Homo sapiens: one gene and its partners. The protein of the gene in region 1 interacts with the protein of each later gene in a biochemical or structural test. Each region holds a gene or a part of one and is shown in the gene's direction. Other genes may lie near its edges.

What was found.
Region 2: the proteins of PROS1 (region 1) and C4BPB form a complex in vitro, tested with the Homo sapiens proteins (one study listed by BioGRID).
Region 3: the proteins of PROS1 (region 1) and F8 form a complex in vitro, tested with the Homo sapiens proteins (one study listed by BioGRID).

What each region holds. Positions count from the first base shown.
Region 1 is NC_000003.12:93,872,309-93,880,530, reverse strand, and holds the end of PROS1 (vitamin K-dependent protein S isoform 2 preproprotein), read left to right. Parts: intron 1-1,216; coding exon 1,217-1,368; intron 1,369-3,339; coding exon 3,340-3,565; intron 3,566-6,125; coding exon 6,126-6,286; 3' UTR 6,287-7,480; downstream 7,481-8,222. UniProt on the Homo sapiens protein: Anticoagulant plasma protein; it is a cofactor to activated protein C in the degradation of coagulation factors Va and VIIIa. It helps to prevent coagulation and stimulating fibrinolysis.
Region 2 is NC_000001.11:207,083,775-207,091,859, forward strand, and holds the start of C4BPB (C4b-binding protein beta chain isoform 1 precursor), read left to right. Parts: upstream 1-5,085; 5' UTR 5,086-5,172; intron 5,173-5,324; exon of another isoform or gene 5,325-5,707; 5' UTR 5,708-5,757; coding exon 5,758-5,815; intron 5,816-6,533; coding exon 6,534-6,707; intron 6,708-7,869; coding exon 7,870-8,046; intron 8,047-8,085. UniProt on the Homo sapiens protein: Controls the classical pathway of complement activation. It binds as a cofactor to C3b/C4b inactivator (C3bINA), which then hydrolyzes the complement fragment C4b.
Region 3 is NC_000023.11:154,837,724-154,845,334, reverse strand, and holds part of F8 (coagulation factor VIII isoform a preproprotein), read left to right. Parts: intron 1-7,582; coding exon 7,583-7,611. UniProt on the Homo sapiens protein: Factor VIII, along with calcium and phospholipid, acts as a cofactor for F9/factor IXa when it converts F10/factor X to the activated form, factor Xa.

The sequences.
Region 1 (8,222 bases):
ACATATAAACATTCTTTTTTTTTTGGAGACAGAGTCTCACTCTTTTTCCCAGGCTGGAGTGCAGTGGCGTGATCTCAGCTCACTGCAACCTCTGCCTCCTGAGTTCAAGCGATTCTCCTGAATCAAGCCTCCCGAGTTGTAGCTGGGACTACAGGTATACACCACCATGCTCGGCTAATTTTTTGTATTTTTTTTTCAGTAGAGATGTTTCACCATGTTGCCCAGGCTGGTCTCGAACTCCTGAGCTCAGGCAATTCCAAAGTGCTAGGATTACAGGCATGTGCCACCGTACCCGGTCTATATATTTTTTTTCTTCTGGATGGGAGTTACAGGATTATAATGAAAAACAGTGACATTATATGTGGCTAAGTGGAAGAACATCTTGTCAAAGGAAAATGATTTTCCTTATTCACATTTACCCTTTCAAGGGCTCCGTGTGGTATTTGGGCTTTGCTGTATGTTACATCATATTAAATGAGGAAGACTTCATTCAGATTATGAACTAATATTTTTAGTAATCCAACTATTCTGGAAACATATTAATTCAACAAATATCTATTGAGTGAGTGCTGGGGAAAACAAAGCAATGATAGAGATATATACCTCCTAGAGCTTGCATGTTAGTGGGATAGACAATTAACCTAGTAATTAAGAAAGAGAATGTGAAGGATTATGACAAGAGATTCACAAAACAAGGGTTCCTATTCTGATTTCAAAACTAACTGCTGATGTCAGTGTATTTCTCTAGTATCGAACTATCCAACTCTCCTATGTATATAGATCATATTTATCCTTTGGAGTGATGATGGCAACTGTACCCAGATTTTCCCTAAATTATTACAGTAAATTTGTTGAATTTTCAAACGTGTGCTTGGAAATATGACCACTCTGAGATTTGAGCATTGGTGAATGTGCAAGGGAGAAGGAAGCACTGTTAAAGAGCAAACTGGGAAAATCCATGATAATCCTTAACACCACAATCCAGAATTCTCTTCTAGGAAGAACGGGAAGATGGTACTCCATTTGCATGTTTCTTGCCTGCATTACAAAAAAGTTTGTTTTGTTTTGCCTAGGTTATATAGATCATTGAGAAAGGGAATGGAAATAGTATTACACAAGATAGTTTTGAATATTACCTGGACTGTGTTAATAATAATTCCTTCTGATGCACTTTAGGAGTGCATTGATCATGCTTCTGTTTCATTATTTTAAATAGATAATGTATCCAGTGCTGAGGGTTGGCATGTAAATGTGACCTTGAATATTCGTCCATCCACGGGCACTGGTGTTATGCTTGCCTTGGTTTCTGGTAACAACACAGTGCCCTTTGCTGTGTCCTTGGTGGACTCCACCTCTGAAAAATCACAGGTAACTTAACTCTAAACCTATATAAGCCTTGTTTTTCTTTTCATTTTTTAAAATGTATACATAGCAGTATTTACCTCAAAGGACTATTTTGAAGATTAAATAAAGTAACTTATGTAAAGTGTTTGGCACAATCTCCAGCACATCATTAAGGACTCAAAAAATGTCTATTATTGTTACTTTTTTTCTGGCTTGTTTCCAAGGTCTGAATGAAGAAGTAAGGGGAGGGAGGAATGAAAAACCTACTGCATCTATACCTAAGATTAGGCAGACTCTCACACAGGCTGCTTGGAGCCATCCGAGTACATAGAGATCCACCCTTATTAAGAATACTTTATGTGTTGTGGGAATTAGTCTGTACTGTCAACATAGAAGTGAGTCTAATTACAGTGCACTGTCAGATATTCAGTGCTTAATTATAATGTTTTGTTCTTTCTTACACTCTTAATCTTTTCTCCCAAGAGTAAGTTAGGAAAAAAGAGAGAAAGTTAAAACTGGTCCACTTGGTTTCTTACTGGCAACTCTTATTTGAAATTAGGAGGAAGAACACGAAAAAGCCTTAGATGAAAGGAAATATGAGGGTTATCAGAAAATCTGTATTATTCAGACTTCTATTAGAGCATAGTCGTTCTGTCTATGTGTCATCCACAGTGCATTCTAACAAGTTACAGCAAGAAGCTGATGTTTATGCCAAGGCTGACTTGGATGCTTTCAGTAGATTTTAGAAAGAGACCTGTGGTTGAATAATGTCTATTGTAGTAAAACAAGTTATGCTGTTTGCAACTTAAAGTATGATTCAGGGAGGAGGATGGGAAGTTTCTGGTGGTTAACCATAAGTAACCTAAAAATATCCTGATGAGTTTTTTTTTGTTTTTGTTTTTGTTTTAATCTCCTGCCTTTAAGGAGCTTTCTACATTTGGATTTCAGGGGTTTTTTGTTTGCTAGTTTGTTTTTCTTTTTAAACAAAATGGAATTCTTATCTTAAACACTACATTCATGCAGTGGAGGAGGTTAACGCATGCCATGTCTTTGATATTTAATTTATCCTTTGAGTGTTTGCCTCCGTGGTTCTTTCTTTGCATGTCAGATTTCCTTCTCAAGGTCTATGCAATATTTCATAACATTATTCCAGATATCATTGATCATTTTGGAGCATTTTCTTTATTGACAATCTCTTTTAATGAGTTTAAGGATACGGACATGTACAACACAATAACAGATTTCCTCAAGTAACCTATATTTGCAAAGTTAGTCTTTTCACTTAAAATAGGTATCTTGGATTCCTAAATAAACATTTCTGATTATGTTTTTATCACTTTCCTCTATGCCATATAAGCTATATGAAGAGATCACACTCAACACATTGAGTAATTTAGGCATAACGGCAGTTTGAAAGGTTCAGCAGAATGAACACATTTTCTTTCTGTAGAATCTTCTGGTAAATGTTCTATAACGTGCTGGTGGCAATCCCTGGTTTTTCTTTCTCAGGGCCTCTTCATTTATTTTATCCCAAGTCTGTAGGATTGCTTGTGTGGCACAAAGAAACCTGTTAGTCCTGCTGGCATATGCTTACTAAAGCATTTTAAATTTCCCAAGTCTTTTCTCAACAAAGAGTGATTCAACTCCTTCCCTTTTCATATGTAAACTTGGAAATTAGGAAGGCTCATAAACAGAAAGATATAAGACACTCCTATAGGTTCCGGTTGTTTTACGGAATTTTCAGAAACCAGTATACATTTATATTTTAGCTAAACTTTGAGTTTGTAAAACTAATGTGTATTTTAAATTTTAGTCATAATTATTATAAATTAGTCTTATAATAATTAGTGATTTTTCCCTTAAATTTAGAGGCTCTATCATACATTTTCTTTCCTTATTGAAATTTAGTTTTTGACTTTCAAAAACTCAAAAGTCACTCTTAAGCAGCATTACTCTTACTCCTTGCTTATATTGAATCTTTGCTCTGCTCTTCAGGATATTCTGTTATCTGTTGAAAATACTGTAATATATCGGATACAGGCCCTAAGTCTATGTTCCGATCAACAATCTCATCTGGAATTTAGAGTCAACAGAAACAATCTGGAGTTGTCGACACCACTTAAAATAGAAACCATCTCCCATGAAGACCTTCAAAGACAACTTGCCGTCTTGGACAAAGCAATGAAAGCAAAAGTGGCCACATACCTGGGTGGCCTTCCAGGTATCTGCTTACTTTTTCTTCAGTTTTAAAAAGTATATTTTAATCAAACCGATAATATTTTAAATATATAATTATAGTAAAAAAGCATCAGAAGGGAACATAAAATCCAGTATTCATTATTCTTTTTCTAGGGGCTAGTACCGACATTTTATTGGCATATTTTTGTTTTGTTTTGTTTAGTTTAAAAATGTTGAACTAAGGCTGATCAAGTTTTGCTTCATTTGGCTATCCCAGCCAGAAAGGATATGTTATTTTATTTCATCATCACAATAGTCTTATAAGTTCAATATTTGTTCTAATTTACCCAATATTTATTCATCTATTATTCAGTTCATCTTATCATTTATCCAGCTTTTTTTTTTTTTTTTTTTTTTTTTGAGATGGAGTCTGGCTCTGTCGCCCAGGCTGGAGTGCAGTGGCACGATCTCGGCTCACTGCAAGCTCCGCCTCCTGGGTTCACGCCATTCTCCTGCCTCAACCTCCCGAGTAGCTGGGACTACAGGTGCCCGCCACCACACCCGGCTAATCTTTTTGTATTTTTAGTAGAGAGGGGGTTTCACCGTGTTAACCAGGATGGTCTTGATCTCCTGACCTTGCGATCCGCTCGCCTCGGCCTCCCAAAGTGCTGGGATTACAGGCGTGAGCAGTGACAATAGTTGTAGTATCTAACTACCATCAACTATTGCAAAACAAACAGTCTGGGCACTGTTTAACGTGCTTCAAATATATCCACTTGTTTAATTTTCAAAATAGTCCAGTGAGGTAAGTGCTATTATTATCCCCATTTTACAGATGAGGAAACTGAGGAAGCTGCAGGACCAGGGTGATAACAATGAAGATGATGGACAGTAAATAGATCGGAGATATGTGTTAGAAACAAAATTAATAGGATTTAATAACTGAAAGACAGGTATAAGGATGACTTTTAGGTATCTGGCATGAGCAGTTGCATGGATGGAGATTCCATTTACCAAGATGGGGAAAACTGGAGGAAAAACAGATTCATCTTTAACTGAATATTGGAAAATATGAAATTGGCACCAATATTTCACTTTAAATGGAAAATTAGAGGCAGAAAGTTATTTAGAAGCATTTTCAGATGACATTTGCAATTTATTCTCATGGGGAGAATTCTGAGTTTGATGTCTGGACCTCTGATAACCTTCAATATACTGCTTAAACTGCTCATGGTCTTGATTTCCCATATATGGAAATTGTATCTGGGGTTTTGGGAAATAGAAGTAAATAGGCTTTAAAAGCTATAGAAAGACAGACAGATAGATAGATGATAGATAGATAGATAGATAGATAGATAGATAGATAGATAGATAGATAGATAGAGGTAAGTAGTGAGCATGCCTAATTATTAGGGAGTAAAATTATAGTTTAAATGAATAAATTCTATATTGAAATCTACCTACTACCTTATCCACAAGTTAGTTGAATGCAATTTTAGGAAATCAAACCAACAAAGAGTTTAAAAGAAGTAGAATTATCAAAATTTCAGTGGTTTCGGGATTTTGGCAACAGCACTGAGGACTAACTTCAGGCAAAATGTCTTGAGAGAAAGAGTGGGGAAGATTTGAGAGGAGCTAAATATTGAGATATTAAGAGTATAAACTGTGAGATGGGTAAATTATTAATTACATGCAAAGTAGGCATGTAAAATTCCATGTGAAGTACTAAAACCCAAGAGAAATGAATGATTTTGAGTAATTTCTTTCCTCAAAATCGAATGAATTTGAGTAATTTCTTTTCTCAAAAAAGGAAAAGTGGCATAATCTATGATGTTTAGCCCAACTTGAAAGGGATTCTTAACAAATGCTATGAGCTCACAGTCATAGTAAAGTAGGAACTTTATTCACTGTGTTGGCAAGTTAGAAGTTGAAAATTTAAAGGTTTTTTTTTGGCATAAGGTACTGAAGATGAAGAATAAGGGCTAAAGAATATCCATTGTGAGTTAAGATTAATGGAGAGGAGAGGCCAAAAAAGAGGAAGGAAAATTGTTATTTTTAGGAACTCTAAATAGTACATGAAAGTGAATCCTGTATCATGACCTATTGTATGCTCAACAAAAAAATTGTTTCTTTGGAAAAATACAGAAATCTGCTTTTATTCCAACAATAATAAAAGAGATATATTGATCATGACATTTAAAAGAGATTCCCAAGTAGCTATAATTTGGAGTTAAGAAAATGATTTAACAATGCTTAAACTGTTGCTTAAGTTTAAAGAGAAAATAGTATGTTATTTGTATAATAAAAATAGAATATCACAAGAATATGCTTGTTTCTACTCTCCCTCAAATGTGTTTAAGTTTAAATGGAACTAATTGTGTTTATGAAATCTGAGGAACTCATGACATGCTGAATTCAATGAAGTACAGTAACATGTATATCGGCGTCACTTAACATGTATTTATGGAATAGAATTTCACTATTAACTTTTCCTTTAGGATTAGAATTTGGTTGGAAACAGGAAGTCTGAATGACTTCTCTCACTGTAAACAAACAAGATGCTAAAAGTCTTGGACTAATATTCTAATATTTTCCTTTTACAGATGTTCCATTCAGTGCCACACCAGTGAATGCCTTTTATAATGGCTGCATGGAAGTGAATATTAATGGTGTACAGTTGGATCTGGATGAAGCCATTTCTAAACATAATGATATTAGAGCTCACTCATGTCCATCAGTTTGGAAAAAGACAAAGAATTCTTAAGGCATCTTTTCTCTGCTTATAATACCTTTTCCTTGTGTGTAATTATACTTATGTTTCAATAACAGCTGAAGGGTTTTATTTACAATGTGCAGTCTTTGATTATTTTGTGGTCCTTTCCTGGGATTTTTAAAAGGTCCTTTGTCAAGGAAAAAAATTCTGTTGTGATATAAATCACAGTAAAGAAATTCTTACTTCTCTTGCTATCTAAGAATAGTGAAAAATAACAATTTTAAATTTGAATTTTTTTCCTACAAATGACAGTTTCAATTTTTGTTTGTAAAACTAAATTTTAATTTTATCATCATGAACTAGTGTCTAAATACCTATGTTTTTTTCAGAAAGCAAGGAAGTAAACTCAAACAAAAGTGCGTGTAATTAAATACTATTAATCATAGGCAGATACTATTTTGTTTATGTTTTTGTTTTTTTCCTGATGAAGGCAGAAGAGATGGTGGTCTATTAAATATGAATTGAATGGAGGGTCCTAATGCCTTATTTCAAAACAATTCCTCAGGGGGAACAGCTTTGGCTTCATCTTTCTCTTGTGTGGCTTCACATTTAAACCAGTATCTTTATTGAATTAGAAAACAAGTGGGACATATTTTCCTGAGAGCAGCACAGGAATCTTCTTCTTGGCAGCTGCAGTCTGTCAGGATGAGATATCAGATTAGGTTGGATAGGTGGGGAAATCTGAAGTGGGTACATTTTTTAAATTTTGCTGTGTGGGTCACACAAGGTCTACATTACAAAAGACAGAATTCAGGGATGGAAAGGAGAATGAACAAATGTGGGAGTTCATAGTTTTCCTTGAATCCAACTTTTAATTACCAGAGTAAGTTGCCAAAATGTGATTGTTGAAGTACAAAAGGAACTATGAAAACCAGAACAAATTTTAACAAAAGGACAACCACAGAGGGATATAGTGAATATCGTATCATTGTAATCAAAGAAGTAAGGAGGTAAGATTGCCACGTGCCTGCTGGTACTGTGATGCATTTCAAGTGGCAGTTTTATCACGTTTGAATCTACCATTCATAGCCAGATGTGTATCAGATGTTTCACTGACAGTTTTTAACAATAAATTCTTTTCACTGTATTTTATATCACTTATAATAAATCGGTGTATAATTTTAAAATGCATGTGAATATCTTTATTATATCAACTGTTTGAATAAAACAAAATTACATAATAGACATTTAACTCTTCATACAACGAAGTAGTTCTTCAGTTAAAAGACAGATAAAGCTCCAATATTTGAATAATATTTATGGTTGGGTGGTAGACTGGAGCTCAGAAGGTGAAGAGAAGCAAAAGTAACATGTATCTTTTGACACAAACCATAAATTGTCTTGCTAAATATAATTTGTTTCCCAATTGCCACCAGGTACTATGGGGGATGAATATCAGCAAGTGACTATTGATAATTACATTCATGTAAAAGAGCAAGGAAAAAGAAAAACAGAGAAAACATACATGAGAGAGGGAAAAAAAAGTGAAAGAAAGGGGCGGAGTTCCCTGCTTTTCATTTGATTATGCCACATACAGGTCAGATATAGGGATCAATTCTACCTTTCACATCAGGAGCAGAAACCTTCCCACATGCAATGATGCTCGTAGAGGCTCCAGAGACGCATTTATAAATTTCATCTACCTTTGAGATGTGCTCATACATGCCTAGAGAGAGGGTCTAGACCTATGGCTAAGAATCTTTGATTGATGTTTAGTTTTGAACTTTGCCAAGAAATATAGATTCCTACTTTTAAAGAGTTGGTAGAGAACAAGGCAAAGTGGATATTTGGTGCCATTTCAGCTTTGTATATAAGTAAAAAAAACTCCAAATAACAGGGCCATTACAGAGTCCCTTAGAATTCACCTTTTGAAAAAGCTTTCTTTTTTCTTTTTACTTTTTGAACATGTTATGTGAGATGGTAATAG
Region 2 (8,085 bases), on another chromosome or scaffold:
TTTGCAAGCACACTTATGCTTATACCTCATTGGTCAAAATGTAGTCAAGTGGCTACATACAGCTTTCATGCAGGCTGGAATATTTTTATTCCAAGTGGCTTTGTGCCAGTTATAATTAGGGTTTAGTTACCAAAGAAGGGTTCAATAGCTATTGAAGAAGTAGCAACCTGCCTTAGTAGGTAATTGAAACATTGTAGCAGGTCTGAAGAGCTATAACAAGGTGAGCAGTAGCCTTTGAGGAGTTAGGCTGCCATTGCTTTGTAAGAGAGGAAAAAATTATTTTTCCTTCTACCCTCCTAGGTTCTCTGCCTGGGACTTTGTAAATTAGACTAACAAAACAGATTGACAAAAGAAACCCAAACAATTTATTAATGTGTGAAGCACACCCCACCTGGGAGGAACCTCATGATGAGTAACTCAAAGGGGAGTTAGAGCTTAGATTTATATAGCATCTTAACAAAAGAGCAATAACTTTGTAGAGAAGTGACAAGACAAAGGAAAAAACGTTAAGTTTCTAGGGCTGCAAATTTTGAGAAGGCAAATACCTGAAAGAAACTAATGGAGAAGGTTTGTGTAGGTCTGTCTTGACACTGACTTCTTTGTGGACATAAATCTCCCTCCGGAGAAAGGACTTACAGCAGTCCTCATTCCTCAGAAGTTTCTGCTTAGAGTCATCTAAGAGATACTCCAGGAAGGCTTCTTTCTGCTTCCATTGCATCTCATTTGCCTGCAGTTCAAAATAATCTTTATGCCAAAGAGGCATATTTTAAGGTGACTTATTCTTGTCCCCTAAAACTTAGAGTAACAATGCATCAACTCTGATCTTGCCACAGTGCAGGTCCATCTAAACTCATAATTAAAGCTTATTCTACAGTGTTTCATGCACAATTTGATTTTTACAAATTCTTTTTAAAATTTACATTCCCATGGAATCTGCCTAAGGCTACTTTTTGCAAAGCTTATAGCTTGCAGTGAACGCCAAGAATGAGTTCTCAGAAAATTCCAGCTGAGCGGGGGAGGGAGCAGCTCTTCTGAGGAGAGTCCGCCCCAATATCTGCCCACCATGTATTCATTGAAAGGGCTTGTTACACCACAAACATCCACCAGATGGCTTTTTGAGGTCGGGTTGTGAGACACCTGTGGCCTTGTCAAAGCACTCAAACCGCATTCTCAGGAGGCTGTTTTCAGCGTTCCTTATCACACACTCCACTCCTTGTCCTGTTTTCAGGGTCAAGGAATTATATTCTCATGCACAAATAACATACACACAGTGCCTCAGCATTTTTCCATGCCCCAACCTCAAATGCCTTGTACATAAGTTTGAGTATGTGGCTGTGCGCCCCCCACACTTTTCTGGCCCAGGTTGTTTTGGTCAGGCATTGGGGAAACATCAACCCAACGTGTAAAAAACATTAAAAGAGCAATTTAAATCTTTTCTGAATTCTCTTGACAAAGACCAAAGGGAATCCATTCATGACACCCTGTAGAACTTCTTAAAATAGTCTTTCCTGAATTCTCTTAAAATCTTACACACACTGCAATGTGTGTGCCCCTTTTATAACTTCCCACAACTCTTCCCCCAGATTGGGCATTGCTGACTTTTATATTTCTACTCTTCCTTCCTCACCTCCTGATCTCTTCCTTTAACTACCATCTGCCCATTTCTTTGTGTTTTGTTGTTATTTGTTTTTTTGAAACAGGTTCTTGCTTTGTTGCCTACACTGGAGTGCAGTGGTGCAATTACAGCTCACTGAAGCCTTGATCTCCTGGACTCAGGTGATCCTCCTGTCTCAGCCTCCCAAGTATCTAGGACTACAGGCACATGCCACCATGCCTGTCTAATATATATAAAATTTTATTTTTTATAGAGATGAGGTCTTGCTATGCTGGTCTTGAACTCCTGTGCTCAAGCCATCCACCTGCCTCGGCCTCCCAAAGTGTTGAGATTACAGGTGTGAACCACTATGCCCAGCTTGCCCATTCCATTGTAAAGCAATGAAGCCAGTCTGAGAACAACAGTTTCACCTGATCTATTACCCCAGTTCTCCAGGAAACGATCTGGCATAGATCCAACTATCTTTTAATGTTCAAAGGAATAGAAGAGCCTGCTAACGCTCATTTATTAATTCGCCTAATTTTGGATACAAATAGTAAAATATATAAGCCTGTAATCTTTATTTACTCTTGTGGTGTAAATATTCACCCATCAGGAGCCCCAGGAGGACCCTGTCCTGGAGCTGAGGGTAAGCCCTGAAGAATATGCAGGCTTGGAAGGGGAGCAGAGGGAGGCAGGAAGGTGGTGAAGGGGGAGGTGTTGGGGAGAGGAGGAGGGAGGCAGAGAGAAGAGGAGAAATTCCTCTGTCTCTGTCTCTCTCTGATTCACTCTGTCAGTGTCTCCTCTGTCTGTCTTTTGTCTCCATCTCTGTCTCTGATGCTCTTGCTCATCCTGTGGGGAGAGAGGGCTGAGGAGGGAAGAGTGGGATTGGGGCGGGGGACAATGGCAGTGCCAGGTGGAGACTTGTCCTTCAGAGTCCCCAGACACCCCTTCCTAAGCATCTCTATCTCTCTGCATCTATCTCTGATTCTGCCTCTCCCCCAAGACCCACCATATTACTCTCTTTCTCTCTCTCAATCACTCTCTGTTTCTTTCTTTAATCTCTAATTCTAAAATCCAAAAACCTTTGAGACAAAGTTTTCTTCTAATTCATTTGACAGAAAAAACCTGACCCAAACTTTGTGATGCTATTTATTGTCTCTATAGAGCCCACTTAGTGTGAATATTTTTGTATTTTTATATTTTATGGAGAAATATTAGTAAGACAATAGTATAAGTGATATGGTTTCTAAAGTCCTATAGTTCTGAATCTGAAGTAAGCCATTAAGATGAAGAATTACTTGCAATTATTTCCTGTAATACATGTTCTATTTTATGTCCATATTTATGTAGGGCTAAACTAGATTTTCCTTCCTTTTTAAAATAATTTATTGTACAAACATTCTGTATATAAATCTATAAAAGATACTGAAGAACATGCATTCCTCAAGAAGTAGAACATGGGGTATGTAAATAAAAATTATTCAAAGCTTAGGATTAGCAAAAAGAGATCACTGGAGTAAATGCTCAATGGATTCCTGGGCATTTTCTAGCAGGCCCTCTGGAGATGATCTCTGACTGACTTTATTTAAAGTTCTTTTAGAACTCTTTAAGCATAGAGGTTAATTTGCAGTAAATTTATAGGAATGCAAATGACTCTTATCTGAGAACAATGCAAATGATTCCTGGTTATAGTAGAGCAAATATATTTTGTCCATTTTGTTTTAATTACTTTCCACCAGGTAGAAAAGCTAATTGCAAATATTACAGTTTGTTACTCTGTAGGATATTAACCAGTTTTGTATCTATTGGAAAGGTCACTTCAGAATGCTTTTGACTGACTGACTATATGCATTCCTATTCCTCAAATTCTTCTTTGAACCAGTTGTAGCATCTGAATGTTTCCTCATTAATTAATGAGTTGAATTAAATCTTTGATATATATTCATCTTATATTTACTTGTGTCATATTTTTAACTTTTTGAAAATCATGTCTTAGAGGGTGCTTACACTATAGGAATTTGCATATTAGTTAAGAAAAGATAAGACATAAAAAATCATAAGGCAGCATGTGATAAATGGCAAGTGATCATATGGATTTTGGGGGCTGTGGTAGAGTTTCTGGATGACAGTTTTTTTCATTTATTTCTGCATTACTTTCATTCATTTAACAGACAACTGCTTTGCAATATGAAGCACCGTGGAAGGGAATACAAATACAAATCAGACACAAACCCTGTCCTGGAGTTAGCAGTTTCCTGTGGGAATAAAGGGGAGGAAAAAAACACCTTTCCTCTACCATATTGTATTCAGTGGCTGGGACCTGCAAATTAGACTAAGACAGATTAACAGGAGAGAAAATTCTATTTATACATGTAACTTGAGTACATGTGGGAAAACTCAGTGATAAGTAATTCAAAAAGTTGGTTAGAATTGGGGCTTATACATCATCTTAATAGGTGAAGGTGGGGAGAAGAAAGGCACTTACAAGAAAACAGATTATTGGCCGGGTGCGGTGGCTCATGCCTATAATCCCAGCACTTTGGGAGGCCAAGGCGGGTGGATCATTTGAGGTCAGGAGTTCAAGACCAGTTTGGCCAACATGGTGAAACCCCATCTCTACTAAAAATACAAAAATTAGCCAGGCGTGGTAGCGCATGCCTGTAATCTCAGCTACTCGGGAGACTGAGGCACAAGAATGGCCTGAACCTGGCAGGTGGAGGTTGCAGTGAGCCAAGATCATGCCAAGACACCATCTCAAACAAAAAAGAAAACAGATTATTTTTTGGAAAGGCAAGTGGGTTTTCAGGGGAAAAGTAGGAAATTAGAAAGTTTTGTGATAATGTTTGTGTATATAAGTACGAGTGTTCTTTCTGTCTCCTTCAAGGCCATGAAATTTCTCTGGAGAAGGAATTTGAAATATGTTTTACTCATGCTCTCCCCTCCAGGATAGACCTACCCTGAAAAGGAATTTATGGCAACCTTATCTCCAAGGTTGCTGCCTTTAGTCAGATAAGGAAAGCCCCCAAAATCTCTGTTCCTTTCCATATCACTGAATCTCAAATATCTTCAGCTTAAAAGAATCTTAACGCCAAATATTTGGGGGTGGCATATCCTGATTCCTTTCAGGAGAAAGACATAGATTAATCATCACAAACAGTAGTAATGGATGGAGAAGAGAAGAACATTTGCAACCTTACTGTGTCCTTAATGCTTTATTATTCTATTAAAACCTGAAATTTTGTAGGAATTTTTCCCCAGTTTCATAATTACAGCACAGAGAACCAACCAAGGGTTATAGTAGTCACAAGCAAGATGATATGGGATCCCTCAAAACAATTTTACATGCCTTAATTCCTGAGACCAAAGCATTCTCCTCACCTCTCTCTTTACTCATTTGGTTAACTCTGGACTCAGGCCAAATCCTGTCCCTGGAAGAGCCACAAAGTAGGAAGCCTGGGTACAGGCCTGGCAAGCGAGAACAATGTGTCACTGCAGGACTTTGGAGCTCTCAGCTTTGGAGTCAGTTAAGACCAGTTCCTTGCTGGGAAGCCCTAACTCTGGAGGGACAGAGACAGGTAAGGTTAGTTTACTTCCTTGAGCTTTCGTCTTCAGTGCTGCTTACAGCCTTAGGATATCTGGTATTCAGGAAAGGAGGATGAGGTAGCATTCAAAATTGTGTTCTACCTGGGCAAGAACCAGGGATTGACAGCCCGTTCTCTTTCCCCAGTGCTGGCCAGAGTTACAGAAGTTGGACTGTAAACATTGGCAACTATTGACAGAAGTCAAGGTCATGGCAAGACCATTTGGCCCATGTTTGTTGGGGAAGGATAAGCCTGCGTTTCAAAAAGACTGGTCAACTGGATTTGCATTCCCAGAAACCAGGAAATTTCTGAAACTGAGTTTTAAACCTGGCAACTCTTTTACCATCCCTTTGTATTTTTGCAGTTCCTCCCTATACCAGCTTCCTTACAGCTGTTCTGATTTCCTGTCGTAAGATTTTTTCTTTTCATTTTCTCCAGGGAGGGTAAATCAATATAACCTCTTCTCTAGAGAGGAGGTGGTTAGGTTGGTCTTAAGCAGTGTTAGAAGATCTATTTTTTTTCAAACCAGGTGTCTGAGCTGGGTGAATTCCAGCCTGGGGAGAGGACTTTGATCACCAGATGTTTTTTTGGTGTGCGTGCTGTCTTATGGTTGCGTGGCGAGTTTCTGCTTCAGATGGTACGTATGCTTTCCTTCAACTCAGCTTACAGGCATTTGGTGTCCTTTTGCGGTGTTTTGAGGAACTCTGTCTAGGGCTTTAAGGAAGTTTACATTTATAATATCTTTATTCTTCTATTGAAAAATCTCAAATTGGCCTAATGCTCTGCACTCAATAGGAGCTTAGTGTACATTTAATGATAACCCTGATCTCTGAAGTGGGTGGTTACTGTTTTTTTACTTTCCCTTTCTGTTCTGGGAGCAAAAAGAGTACCAATTTCAAAATCCTGGGAGGTCTTACTTGTTATAAACTCCAGGATCGCTATTTGTGTAGGGGACTATTTGTTTAGAAGTGGACAACTTGTGGTTGAATTTGAGTAAAATTCCTGTTATACTTTTGAAAATAAAACTTCGGAATTCCGGCCGGGCGCAGCGGCTCAAGCCTGTAATCCCGGCACTTTGAGAGGCCGAGGTGGGCGGATCACGAGGTCAAGAGATCGAGACCATCCTGGCTAAGACAGTGAAACCCCGTCTCTGCTGAAAATACAAAAAATTAGCTGGGCGTGGTGGCGGGTGCCTGTAGTCCCGGCTACTTGGGAGTAGAATACAGAGTACTTGGGAAGAGCACAGGAATCAGGATCAATAATCCAGCAAAAAGACATGAGAATGGGGAAATCTAATAAGGGTTCTCTGACAGCACATGATATGCCAAGTGAATCTGTTTTCTTTTTTCTTCCAGCAGAGCACTGTCCAGAGCTTCCTCCAGTGGACAATAGCATATTTGTCGCAAAGGAGGTGGAAGGACAGATTCTGGGGACTTACGTTTGTATCAAGGGCTACCACCTGGTAGGAAAGAAGACCCTTTTTTGCAATGCCTCTAAGGAGTGGGATAACACCACTACTGAGTGCCGCTGTAAGTTAGATCTTTCTGTATCTTTGCCCATATTGATATCCTGTTTTACTCCTTCACATCCTACTTCCTATAGGCTGTGGTAAAACTTTATAAGAAAACAAAAATTCTCAATTTCTAGGAGACCTCTTTTAAAGCACTCCAGTGGAGGAGCTTCTCTTGGAAGCTCTATGATCAGATCTTGATCAGTATTAATTCAGTTGAATTAACAGAATCAATTCCCTCTATGGGAAAGAAATAATTTCTTCCAGATATTAGAACTAATTTTTTTTTGCTATAATTTGTTTAACCTTATATTGCTTTAAAAATGTTTATGTTATGGAAAATTTAAAATGTATACAAACGACAGAAGAGTCAAATTCACTCATATAGACTCATCACATAATTTCATCAATTATCCACACATGATAATCTTGTTTCATGTATATCCTCTTTATTATTTTGAAGTAAGTGCATTGTATCATTTTATTTCACCTATCATATAACTTTTGAACTGGGAATAGTTTGTATTCTCAGTTTACCAATGTGATAATTGAGATCCAGCTGACTTGCTCAAGGTCACAAAACTCATTTCTGGTATCCTCTGTGGAGATGGGGAATAATTAATCCATATCCTATTTATTACTATTATTTTTTAAAGAATAGTTGCATTAGTTCTCTTGTATACCTAGAGTAGAGCACACCGATATTATTATCCTTCATTCATATAACCAAACTCATATATCCCTGTGCATTCTCTCCTGTTTTTTTCCATGCCATGGGAAAAAGCACAACAAAATAAAAAATGCTAAGTAAGTGTATATTTGGCTGGTTGAAAGGGAAGGAAATACTTGCTTCAAACATAGTCTCACTATTTTGAGCCATGCTTAATATAACAGTACAATAAACATACGATTGGTAACTTTCAGTTACGTGATTAATTACTTTCAGTTGCCAATTCATGTTGTTCTTGTGCATGACAAAGCTCTTTTGGGCTGTACTTAGGTCAATCTCCTCTTTTTTTCATTCTGCATTGATATGGTAGTACCATGTACTTCACTCAATTAAAAATGTGCAGTATTAACTCTAATTTGCTGTTTTCTCACTGAAGACTGAGGAGGTCTGGCCTTTGCTGTGTTGGGCTTCAGCTTTGCCCTTTCAGCTTATTGCTTATTTTCTTCTTCAGTGGGCCACTGTCCTGATCCTGTGCTGGTGAATGGAGAGTTCAGTTCTTCAGGGCCTGTGAATGTAAGTGACAAAATCACGTTTATGTGCAATGACCACTACATCCTCAAGGGCAGCAATCGGAGCCAGTGTCTAGAGGACCACACCTGGGCACCTCCCTTTCCCATCTGCAAAAGTAGTAAGTACAAGAGAAACCATCAAGGATCCCCAAAATACT
Region 3 (7,611 bases), on another chromosome or scaffold:
AAAGATGGAATCCTCCCTAACTCATTTTATGAGGCCAGCATCATCCTGATACCAAAGCCTGGCAGAGAAACAACAAAAAAAGAGAATTTTAGACCAATATCCCTGATGAACATTGATGCAAAAATCCTCAATAAAATACTGGCAAACCAAATCCAGCAGCACATCAAAAAGCTTATCCACCATGATCAAGTGGGCTTCATCTCTGGGATGCAAGGCTGGTTCAACATACGAAAATCAATAAACGTAATCCAGCATATAAACAGAACCAAAGACAAAAACCACATGATTATCTCAATAGATGCAGAAAAGGCCTTTGACAAAATTCAACAACACTTCATGCTAAAAACTCTCAATAAATTAGGTATTGATGGGACGTATCTCAAAATAATAAGAGCTATTTATGACAAACCCACAGCCAATATCATACTGAATGGGCAAAAACTGGAAGCATTCCCTTTGAAAACTGGCACAAGACAGGGATGCCCTCTCTCACCACTCCTATTCAACATAGTGTTGGAAGTTCTGGCCAGGGCAATCAGGCAGGAGAAAGAAATAAAGGGTATTCAATTAGGAAAAGAGGAAGTCAAATTGTCCCTGTTCGCAGACGACATGATTGTATATCTAGAAAACACCATTGTCTCAGCCCAAAATCTCCTTATGCTGATAAGCAACTTCAGCAAAGTCTCAGGATACAAAATCAATGTGCAAAAATCACAAGCATTCTTATACACCAACAACAGACAAACAGAGAGCCAAATCATGAGTGAACTCCCATTCACAATTGCTTCAAAGAGAATAAAATACCTAGGAATCCAACTTACAAGGGATATGAAGGACCTCTTCAAGGAGAACTACAAACCACTGCTCAATGAAATAAAAGGGGATACAAACAAATGGAAGAACATTCCATGCTCATGGGTAGGAAGAATCAATATTGTGAAAATGGCCATACTGCCCAAGGTATTTTATAGATTCAATGCCATCCCCATCATGCTACCAATGACTTTCTTTACAGAATTCTAAAAAACTATTTTAAAGTTCATTTGGAACCAAAAAAGAGCCCGCATTGCCAAGTCAATCCTAAGCCAAAAGAACAAAGCTGGAGGCATCACGCTACCTGACTTCAAACTATACTACACGGCTACAGTAACCAAAACAGCATGGTACTGGTACCAAAACAGAGATATAGACCAATGGAACAGAACAGAGCCCTCAGAAGTAATACCACACATCTACAACCATCTGATCTTTGACAAACCTGACAAAAACAAGAAATGGGGAAAGGATTCCCTATTGAATAAATGGTGCTGGGAAAACTGGCTAGCCATATGTAGAAAGCTGAAACTGGATCCCTTCCTTACACCTTATACAAAAATTAATTCAAGATGGATTAAAGACTTAAATGTTAGACCTAAAACCATAAAAACCCTAGAAGAAAACCTAGGCAATACCATTCAGGACATAGGCATGGGCAAGAACTTCATGTCTAAAACACCAAAAGCAATGGCAACAAAAGCCAAAATTGACAAATGGGATCTAATGAAACTAAAGAGCTTCCGCACAGCAAAAGAAACTACCATCCCAGTGAACAGGCGAGCTACAAATTGGGAGAAAATGTTTGCAATCTATTCATCTGACAAAGGGCTAATATCCAGAATCTACGAAGAACTCAAACAAACTTACAAGAAAAAAAGACCCCATCAAAAAGTGGGTGAAGGATATAAACAGACACTTCTCAAAAGAAGACATTTATGCAGCCAACAGATACATGAAAAAATGCTCATCATCACTGGCCATCAGAGAAATGCAAATCAAAACCACAGTGAGATACCATCTCACACCAGTTAGAATGGCGATCATTAAAAAGTCAGGAAACAACAGGTGCTGGAGAGGATGTGGAGAAATAGGAACGCTTTTACACTGTTGGTGGGACTGTAAACTAGTTCAACAATTGTGGAAGACAGTGTGGCGATTCCTCAAGGATCTAGAACTAGAAATACCATTTGACCCAGCCATCCCATTACTGGGTATGTACCCAAAGGATTATAAATCATGCTGCTATAAAGACACATGCACACGTATGTTTATTGCGGCACTATTCACAATAGCAAAGACTTGGAACCAACCCAAATGTCCATCAATGATAGACTGGATTAAGAAAATGTGGCACATATACACCATGGAATACTATGCAGCCATAAAAAGGATCTGTTCATGTCCTTTGTAGGGACATGGATGAAGCTGGAAACCATCATTCTCAAAAACTATCACAAGGACAAAAAACCAAACACCGCATGTTCTCACTCGTAGGTGGGAATTGAACAATAAGAACACTTGGACACAGGTAGGGGAACATCACACACCGGGGCCTGTCATGGGGTGGGTGGACAGGGGAGGGATAGCATTAGGAGATATACCTAATGTAAATGACGAGTTAATGGGTGCAGCACACCAACATGGCACATGTATACATATGTAACAAACCTGCACGTTGTGCACATGTACCCTAGAACTTACAGTATAATAAAAAAAAAGAAATTGCAAAATTACACATTCTTTGTAAGCACACAAAGGAAACATGTTAGAATTTTCCATTTTAAGCTACAAATAAGCTACAAATAAAGTAGTCTCAAATTTCAGATAATATAAAACATGTTTTCTGGTCACAATACAATTAAAGTTGATATAAATAAGAAAGATAACTATAAAATCTTCCTATGTTAGAATCAAGAACTATACTTTTAAACCCATGTGTCAAATAAGAAATCATAAATTAGAAAATATTTTAAACTGAATGATAACAAGGCATGACATATTAAAATGTGGGAATCAGCTAAAGCAATATTTAGAAAGAAATGTATAGCGTTAAAAACATATATTGGAAGAGAAGAAAGCCTGACAATTAATGAGCTAAGGTATGTCTCAAGAAGCTAGTGAAACAGCAAAATAAACCAAAAGGAAGTAGAAGCAAGGAAATAATAAAGATATGAAGTAAATGAAGTAAAAAAGAAACATACAATAGAGAGAATAAAGAAAACCAAAAGTTGGTTCCTTGAAAATTGACAAACTTCTGGCAAGAGCAATCAAGATGAAAAGAAGGCACAAATAATATCAGAAACTTTAAAAAACTGGACATCAATAAAGATCCCACAAAAATTTCTGCCAATATAAAAATATAAAAAATGAGGATACTTATTAATATTAAATGTTCTTTCTTGTTGTATTTACCAGGGATTAATCCATTTTACCTAATTTTCCAAACTTAGTGTTAAAAGGTTATTAATTTAAAAAATCCAGATCCAGATGGCTACACTAACTATATTCTACCAATTTTTCAAAGGAGAAATAATATTAACCTTGCAAAAATTCTTTCAGAAAATGGAAAAAGATGGAATGTTATTCAATTATCTTATGATAATAGCATAACCTTGACAACCAAACCGAACAAGAACAATATTAGAAAGGAAGATAATAGGCCCGTTTTATTCATAAACATAAATCCCAAACAAAATATTAGCAATATGGATCCAAATTGGATTTATGCTAGGAATGCAAGTTTGGCTTATACATTAGAAAACTGATATAATTTATCACAGTGACAGACTGAAGGATTATACATATTGGCTGTCCTAAGCAGTGCAATAAGATGAGAAAAAGAAGGAAAATATGTAAGGATTGAATATGATGAAACAAACTCATTGTATGTGGAAGATATGATGGCATAGATAGAAAATCCAAAGGAATTTATATATAAATTATTAGAATTTTTAAAATTTTTCAAGCTTGCTGAAAACAAAATAAATACCAAAATTAATTGTATTTCTGTATACCTGAAACAGTTGGAAAAATAGTTTTAAATAGCATTTAAAAATTCCAAGCAGGAGTTGCACATTCCTGTCAGATAATGGCAGCTGCCTAAATCTCTCCACAGTCTTCAAAAACCATACATACACATACACACACAATTTTAAATTATGACTAAAACCACCCATAACCCATCTATAGAATAACCAGAAGACAAAAAGTACTATAAGTTTATATTTACAAGTAGAAAATAAATATATAAATCTAGCCAACCTTGCTCCAGAGAGAAACCCTGTCTCAAAAAAAAAAAAAAAAAAAAAAAGAAGAAAGCAAATGTTGGAAATTAACTGTCCTATAAAAACAAAAGTGAATTACTAAATCACAAGACCCACAAACCTCTTTGGTCACATCTATTAAATAAATTACACTTCCATTTATCAACAGTAGAGGGTACTCCTGGCTAAGAAACCTAGTAAGCCACCCAGCCCTCATGTCTGCCTGCATAAATCACCTCTTATTGCTGAAACAAGAAAATGTAAGGAATTTCTAAATGAACAGAAAATAGCATATGAAGCAGATGGTATTAATGTTCTTGAGTTTTTATTCCCTCTTTCCTTGAAAACCTCATCAACTTTAGGCATGGCCGTACGGCTCATCTTGATCAATAGAATGTGATTGGACATGACATATATACCACTTCCAAATAGAAGCTTTAAATGTGATTTTGTGTTTGACACACTCTTTTGTGCCTCTGCTCCAGGCTCCAGACTTTAAGCCTCTAGAACGATAAGTGAATAAATTTCTTTTGTTTTAAAGGCACCAAGTGTGTGGTGAATTTGTTACAGTAGCCCTAGAAATCTAATACTAACAAAAAGAATGTTAGAGTTGAATTAGAAGTGTCAGTGAGAACTTAGGAATTTAAAAAATCATATTCTTAGCACTGTTCACTGAGGGAATCTAGAAGTAATTACACTGCAGTAATAACGAGCCCATCCCATGCCCAAATCTTGGTCTCTAACTACCATTTTCCAGTCAAAAGAATCTGAGCTCCCTAGAGAAATGACTTTTTCAAGGCTGGATCAAGGAAACTGCCAGGCAATCTTAGATGATCTTGGTGATCTTGATGTGCCAGAAGATTAATGGGATCATGTGAAAAGAACACAGAAACTGGTCTGAAGGGCTTCCTGTTGGCCAGATTTGAGACAATTTGAGCATCAAAAGGAATAATGAGGGTAATGGATCATAACTGGAAAATCAGTTTGCAACCATCAATGTACTTACTATTGAATACTTGTAAAGAACTTTAAGGGTTGCTAATACCATTGGATAAAAGCTTGTTGTGAAACAGAATATTTGCATGGTCTCAAAGTCTCACTCCACAGATTGTTAGGAAAGGGAAAGGGTTACCTTTATAAATATAGAGATTAGGTGGACATCTTAACCAAGTGATCAAACTTAGCATCATCAATAATGGGACAATCTGGCATCGCATGCCCCCTGATTTAATGCAGTAAGGATTAAGTCTAACAAAAGATGTACAAAGCCTCCAAATACAGCGTAAACATTTGTAAAATAATCTCAGAACAGGGACCTTAATGTTTCTCAAAAATTTTTCCAAATACAGAACTTTATTTCTATAGATGTTTATGGTATATTTGCCATGCTATATACATTATGCTATATATTCTATGTGCTGAAGATACAACAATGACCAAGGTCTTTGCCCTTGTGGAACTGACATTTGGTGGCGGAGACAGAGGAAACAGTCAATAAGCATGTAAAGAGATAAAGGAAAAGATACTGAATGCTACAAAGGAAACAAATAAGTTGAGATTTAGAACAAAAAAGAGTCCTATTTTACAAGAGGAATAATGAGGAAGACCTTTCTAAAGAGGTAGCTCAGCACTTTGGGAGGCCGAGGCGGGTGGATCACGAGGTCAGGAGATCAAGACCATCCTGGCTAACACAGTGAAACCCCATCTCTACTAAAAATACAAAAAATGAGCCGGGCATGGTGGCGGGCACCTGTAGTCCCAGCTACTTGGGAGGCTGAGGCAGGAGAATGGCGTGAACCCGGGAGGCGGAGCTTGCAGTGAGCCGAGATGGTGCCACTGCACTCCAGCCTGGGCGACAGAGCGAGACTCCGTCTCAAAAAAAAAAAAAAAAATTGAGGCAGAATTTCGCTATGTTGCCTAGGCTTGTCTCAAACTCCTGGGCTCAAGCAATCCTCCTGCCTCAGCCTGCTGAGTAGCTGGGACTCCAGGGGCATGCCACTATGCTTAGTTTAAGAGGTGGTATTTAAACTGAGACCCGAAGGGTAAAAAACATGGATAAAAGAAGAAACAGAAGGGGTAAGAGCCTTCCAAGCAGAGGGAATCACATATACAAAGGCTCTCATGTTAAATAAAACAAGAGTTGACATTGTTGAGAAACTGAAAGATCAGCTCATCTGCGATGCGGTAAAATAGGAGGAATGCAGTGGGAGAACAGATCAGAGACTTGGGCAGGGGCTATATTAGGCAGAACTTGGAGACCAGAGTAAGGGGGCCAAGGTGGGAACAGACCGATTAAATTGGCATCTCTTGGGGGGGTGGGGGGGTGGGGAACTTACCCATGCATCATTTTTTAAAAGCTCCAAAGGCGATTCCAATAAGCAGCCAGGGTTGGGAACCTAGGGGGAAAATGTAGCTAGATGAATGAAGATGGCCCAAACGTCTTTTGTTCTGATAGCTAAACTCTCTGTAGGATCACAGTGTTACTTCACAGTGCATTTGCCAGGAAAAGTCTCTTCCCATTTGGAATCCGAAGTAAAACTGACACCACACTTGAAGATGCCAGGATTGTTAGAGGAAAATGTCACCCAATAGCTCCAGGAAGCAGGAGCCCTACTGTTGCTGTTTAACCACTTCTTTCCCATTTTGGTGGCAAGTTGCCTCCTTTTACACAAACTGCCTCAGGAGATCCTAAAGATATCATGGTGTCTGTCTGTCCTTGCAAGAGCATGCATTATGGTAGGACATTGCCTTCATTCTGTTCCTTTTTCTCCAAGACTCTTGCTTATTCTCACCATTTGGCTGGACTTTCTACTGTAGGATTACCTCGGAATCCACACAAAACCCACAGGGTTTCAGAGTTGCCTTGAATTACACGTTTTGAACATTCAGATCTTCATTTTCCCAAACATCCACCCAGTTATAGGTGACCTTTGCTCCAAAGTCCTGGAGTAGCAAGGTGCCTTGAGTCTTAGACTCTTCCCACTTCTTTCTCTCTTCTGCATCCCCTCCTGCCAAGGTTGCCCAGCCACACTAAATTGCATGCCTTGCTGTGTTGCATTCGTTATCATTCTAAAGTTGTCACCAACATGTGCGAAACCAGTTTATCTAATAACGATAGCTACCATTTTCTGAGCTCTTGCCATGTACTCCTCTTGCCACAGCAAATGCATTGACAAGGGAGTCTGCTGGCCAAAGCCTGACTCTCATCTCCAGATGGTCCAACACAGATGCTGTGTGTGACCCAGGACAAAGCACTTAATGTCACTGAGGTTTGGGAAGTGGGTGAGAACACTGTAGATATAAGGCCTAGCTAGAGTGAAGGCCTCCAAAGCAGGGTGCTCTTAATTCTAGATGTCCCAGATGCGTAGGACAGAGTCATCTAGTCATCTTCCAGGGTTTAATCCTGGACTACTGGAAACAACTAGAAGTGAGAAAAGCGTCTGTGCTTTGCAGTGACCATTGTCCTGTCAGACAACCAATAAATGCTATCTTTCCTCTTTCAGGTTTTTCAGGGAAATCAAGACTCCTTCAC